2 separate regions of the Homo sapiens genome follow, and region 2 is linked to region 1. Evidence: fine-mapped expression QTL. A gene starts in region 1. The other region holds a variant in brackets. All regions are shown on one strand. Distances are from middle to middle.

The links. PIP is the estimated chance that this variant, and not a neighbour inherited with it, causes the effect.
Region 2: its variant is fine-mapped to the expression of ACVR2B in whole blood (TOPMed, PIP 0.93).

The regions. Positions count from the first base shown.
Region 1 is chr3:38,452,262-38,455,169 of GRCh38, reverse strand. It overlaps ACVR2B (activin A receptor type 2B), which reads right to left and starts at 1,280. Exons shown (of 11, transcript NM_001106.4): 1 at 796-1,280. The coding sequence starts at 847. It overlaps ACVR2B-AS1 (ACVR2B antisense RNA 1), which reads left to right and starts at 350. Exons shown (of 2, transcript NR_028389.1): 1 at 350-667; 2 at 1,945-2,908. It also overlaps a transcript of XYLB not described here. RefSeq lists enhancers at 1-10, 11-594, 1,199-1,698 and silencers at 601-880, 1,301-1,420, 1,431-1,480.
Region 2 is chr3:38,422,094-38,425,001 of GRCh38, reverse strand. It overlaps a transcript of XYLB not described here. Among named protein-coding and RNA genes, the nearest start is that of ACVR2B, 30 kb to the left of the region's middle. The variant G/A (reference allele first, on the strand shown) is at 1,805.

The DNA.
Region 1 (2,908 bases):
CGCGCCCACATACCCCCAAACACACATGCGCTGGCCGAACACCTCCAGCCACACGCCCGCAGCCGCGGGCGAGCTGAGCGCTGGTCACCCACCCCGCCACGTGCCTCCTGGAGGCCCGAAGGAAGAGGGACCTGTTGGGTTTTCCATCTTACCCACCCCCTCCCCTCCCAAGTGCCCAAACAAAGCGGTCCCGCGAAGCGACCACACTCCGCATCCCGGGGCCAACGGCAGGGAAAGAGGGAGCAGGTGGGAGCCAGCACCAACAGCCCGCCGGGCCGGTAACGCGACGCAGACTGGTGGCAAGAGATGCAGGGGACTTTGGGCTGCGTGAAGCCGCCCCCTTCGCTTCGCTACACTTAGTGACTCTGAGGGACATGCAACCCTCCCCGCATGCTGCTGCTGCTGCTGCACCTACAATCCTGCCACCCCCAATGAGATCTGCCCACCCCTCTTGGCCGCCTTCCCCACGCTCAGGTTTTCCTCACTCTTTCCCTGGGTTCCACGCGCCCGCGTAGCCCGAACTCCGACCCTGAGGCTCCGCGTCCCGGCCCCCATCGCAGGGGCGCCTCTAGGAACCAGAATCCCGCAGATGACTGCACAGACAAGATCGTGCCCCCAAGTTCGGCGAGCCGGGCGCCCACCGCGCCCCCAGCCCACGCCCCCGGAGGTGAGGGCTGAATACAGGTGGTGCGGCGACGAGGCCCCGGGCCCGCCCTTTGTTGGTAAACACCGCGCGGCGCCAGAGGCCAGCCCCGCGCGCCCTCTCGGCGTCCCCGCGCCGCGCCCAGTTCTTACCGGCGCACAGCGATCCCCAGAGGAGGGCGAGGGCCACCCAGGGCGCCGTCATGTTCCGCGGCGCCGCCCCGCGCACACCCGGAGCCCGCGGGCAGGGCCGCACGGCGCTCCCGGGGCGCGCAGGGCCAGGCGGCGGCTGCGCTCTCCTTCCCGCTCCTTCCTTCGGTCTCGTTCCCTGCGCGCTTCCTGCGCCTTCGTCCCCGAGCAGCGTTCGGGCTCCAAGGGCCGGTCGGCGGGGCCGGGCTCAGGGCCGCTGCGGGCGGCGCAGGCTGCGGCCCGGGCTCCGGGGCGACGCGGGGGCCGGGGGGCGGCGGCGGGGCACGGGCCGGGGCGCGCCCGACTCAGGCATAGCGCGGCGGGGCTGGGCCCGGGCCCCGGGCGCAGGGGCCGAGTCCGGAGGGGCCATGAACGGGGGGAGGGGTGGGGGGGAGGGGAGCTGAACCGAGTCCAAAATGGCTCCTGAGCGGCGGCCACGGAGCCGAGCCAGCGGGGAAACCCGGATGTTGGATACAAAGAGGCGGGCGGGCTGGGCGGGGAGGGGGAGGGGAGGCGGGCCCTCCGGCCGCGTGGTCCGCGCCCCCCTGAGGGGCGGGGCCCCAGAGAAACAACAACACGGAGGCCCCGCCCCCATCCCGCGCCCTGTGGGAGGACGCGCGTGCACCAACTTGCTGGAGGACAGGGCGGGGCGCGCGGACGGAGGTGGCGGGAATGGGCTCCTGACCACTTTGCCCGGGAGCCTGTGGCCACTGCACTCGCAATTAGTGCCCCGCACGCTCGAGCCCAAGCTCCTGACACATGCTGCCCTACAACCCCGGAATGAGTGGATAGTCCCGGGACTCTGGCCCAGACGCCTCTGTGCCTTGGATTCCCCACCTGTGCAATGGGGGTGACAGTGAACCGTGGGAAAGTCGGATCTCTACTGATGGGCGAATTAAGTGGCAGAAAGAGGCTGACTTCCCTGAATTGACAAGCAGTCTCCCGTCTGCAATCCCTTGCCACACACTCAAAGGCACAGCTAGGGCGGGGAGTGGTCATTTAAACCCAACCAAGTGAGGGAGCGGGCAGAGTCCCGCCCCTCTAAGCCCAGCAGGTGGAAAAGGGCCTCTGGCAACCTGCTGGCCCTCCCTAATCCTATCTTGTCTTCTGCAGTTCCTGCGCCACCCACAGCGGCCCTGAGCTTCAATCTGCACTTTCAAAACTTCCCAGTTGCCTCCAGAGCCCTGCAGTTGAAGATCTTGTCTAGCACATGGTTTTGCTGTTTTCCTCACCCCGAACTCCCTCCTTGGAGGGCCATCGTTCTCTGTCTCAGATTCCACCCTCCTTATCACACAACTAGAGCTTCGGAGGAACGTGATGGGGCTCCCAACTAAGGAGGGAAAGACCATCATAGCTCAGGGATGAGGCTCCGAGATCCTCAGATAACATTAATTGTCCTCTGTCTTCTCTTGACTTGGCACATCCTTGCTTGGAGCAGGGCAGGAGCAGCTGAAAGGGAGGTGGCACCTGGAGGTCTCAGTCATTTCACTTCTCTGAGCCTCAGTTTTCCCATATGCAAAGTGAAGAGGTACACTCCCTCAGGGTTTTGCATCTTCTTAATGGCAGAAACCTAGTCAAACAAAATATTATGTAAATGTTCACTATAGGCAGGGCGAGGTGGCTCAAACCTGTAATTCCAGCACTTTTAGAGGCCCAGGAGGCTCTTGAGGTCAGGAGTTCGAGACCAGCCTGACCAACATGGCAAAAACCTGTCTCTACTAAATAATACAAAAATTAGCTGGGCATGGTGACACACACCTGTAATTCCAACTACTCGGTAGGAGGCTGAGGCAGGAGAATCGCTTGAACACAGGAGGGAGGCGGAGGTTGCAGTGAGCTGAGATTGCACCACTGCACTCCATCCTAGGTGACAGAGTGAGACTCTCTCTCAAAAAAAAAACAAGTTTATAAAGGAATGTATATTGTTCTGATTGACATTGAAATAGGGTCAACTACCCCCGGTCACCAGAGCAGCAGGAACACCTCAGGGGCCACACTTTGGAGGCACTGCCCAGAAAGATTTCTGGGTCTTTAAAAGTCCCTTCCAGTCCTGGGAAATTCTATGTGAAAATGATGG
Region 2 (2,908 bases), 30 kb after region 1:
CTTTCCAGGTAATGCTGTATCTGCGTTTGAGACCAGAGGCATTAACATGGGTTAAATTATCAAAGTGTCTAGCATTAGATAATGCCATAGCAACTAGGCAATCAGCAATTTGATTTCCTGCAGTCAAAGGTCCTGGAAGAGGTGTATGACCTCTAATACGAGTTATGTAAAAAGGGTGCATTCTACTCTTAACTGCTGTTTGCAATTGGGTAAATAAAGTCATCAGTTGTTTATCTGCATGAAATTGTAACTGAACATTTTCAATTAATTGTGTGGAATGAACCACGTATGAAGAATCAGAAATTACATTGACAGGCATCTCAAAACCGTCAGCACCTCAATTACAACTACAAGCTCTGCTTTTTGAGCTGAAGTATAGGGCGTCTGGAAAACTTTACTTTTTGATCCAGAGTTAGAAGCTTCACCATTACTAGACCCATCTGTAAAAACATTTTCCGCACCTTCAATTCGTTTAAATTTAGTTATTCTAGGGAGAATCCAATTAGTTAATTTCAAAAATTGAAATAATTTTGTCTTTGGAAAGTGATTATCAAGAACACCTATGAAATCAGCTAAATGGGTTTGCAATTAAGACTATTTATAAAGGCTTTTTGTATTTGTGCCTTTGTAAGGGGAACAAAAATTTTTCCAGGATCATATCCTTGTAATTTAACAATTTGAGTTCTCCCATTTCCTATCAGAGTAGCAATTTGATCCAAATAAGGAGTTAGAGTCCATGGATTAGTATGTGGAAGAAAAAGCCATTCTACAAGATCTTGCTCTTGAACAACAACACCAGTAGGTGAATGCTGAGTTGGAAAAATCAATCTTTTCTGGATCTTTTCTGGATCTATTCTATTTATTTGAGCTTTATGCACTTGCTTTTCAATCAGCTGTAACTCTGCCTCAGCCTCCTTTGTTAATTGCCAAGGGTTTGTGAGACTGGGATCTCCTCTAAGGATAGAAAAGAGATTACTCATGGCAGAGGTAGGAATGCCTAGAGCAGGTCATATCCAATTAATGTTTTCCAGTAATTTTTGAAAGTCATTCAATGTTTTCAATTGATCCCTATGTATGGTTACTTTCTGTGGCACAATGGTAGTGTCATTTACTAAGGTCCCCAAGTAGGAGTAAGGAGTAGTAGTCTGAATTTTGTCAGGAGCTATAATTAAATCAGCATGAGAAATCGAGTTTTGCAAGTGATTATAACATTGGAGTAATATTTCCTGAGTGGGGGCAGCACAAAGTATATCATCCATATAATGAATAATGTAACACTGTGAAAATTTTTTACGAGTAGGTTCAATTGCTTGTCCTACATAAGTCTGACAAATCATTGGACTGTTTAACATGCCTTGTGGCAACACTTTCCAATGAAAACGCTAAGCAGGCTGCAGGTTGTTTACCACAGGAATTGTAAATGCAAACCATTCACAGTCTTGCTCAGCTAAGGGGATAATAAAGAAACAGTCTTTTAAATCTATGACTATTAAAGGCCAATTTTTTGGAATCATAGCAGCAGAAGGCAGTCCAGGCTGCAATGCTCCCATAGGTTGTCTAACCGAATTAATGGCTCTAAGATCTGTCAACATTCTCCATTTATCACATTTTTTCTTAACAAAGACTGGAGGGCTGGGCATGGTGGCTCACACCTGTAATCCCAGCACTTTGGGAGGCCAAGGTGGGTGGATCACAAGGTCAGGAGATCGAGACCATCCTGGCTAATGCAGTGAAACCCCGTCTCCACTAAAAATACAAAAAATTAGCCGGGCGTGGTGGTGGGCGCCTATAGTCCCAGCTACTC[G/A]GGAGGCTGAGGCAGGAGAATGGCATGAACCCAGGAGGCGGAGCTTGCAGTGAGCCAAGATCGCACCACTGCACTCCAGCCTGGGCAGCAGAGCGAGACTCCATCTTAAGAAAAATAATAATAATAATAACAAAGAGTGGAGAATTCCAGGGGGGAAACGTTAGAGCTATATGTCCTTTTTCTAATTGTTCAGTAACTAAGACCTCTAAAGCCTCCAGTTCTTCTTTACTCAGCAACCATTGTTCTATCCAAATTGGCTTACTTGTTAACCATTTTAAAGGTATAGGTTCCGGAGGCTTAACAATGGCCGCCATCAAAAATGATACCCTAAACCCTGACAAGAATTTTTTCCTTCCGCTTGAACTGGTTTTTTTAACCCTTGTAAATTTTTTTCTAATCCCATGCCAGGCACATACCCCATCTCTTGTATCACATGCTGACTTTGAGGGCTATATAATTGTTCTATGTAATGGGGAACTTGTGCTCCCCATTGCTGTAATAAATCTCTCCCCCATAAATTTATAGGTACAGAAGTTACAATTGGCTGAATAGTCCCAGATTGTTCATGGGGTCCTTCACAATGCAAAATATAAATACTTTGATATACTTCAGGGGCTTTACCAACTCCAACTATGTTAAATTGAGCGGATTGAATTGGCCACACAGACGGCCAGTGCTGTAGAGAAATGATTGAAACGTCCGCTCCTGTATCTCCCAACCCTTTGAATTTCTTTCCCTGAATAGTTATTTCACAGGTAGGATGTTTATCAGTAATTTGATTTACCCAGTAAGCTGCTCTCCCTTGCTTATTTGTACTTCCAGATCCTCCTGTCTGTTTAGTTTCACTTCTCCCCATTTCCACATATGGCACAATCAGGAGTTGTGCTATACACTCTCCTGGCTCTGCTTTCCAGGGAACAGAAGTAGATATAACAATTTGAATTTCCCCACTGTAATCTGAATCAATGACTCCTGTTTGTACTTGTACTCCTTTTAAATGTAAATTAGACCTACCTAGAAGTGATCCTGCCATACCGCTGGCATCATCTGACTGGAGACAGCAACATTCTTTAACAGTCCCATTACAAAAGGAAAACCTGGTCC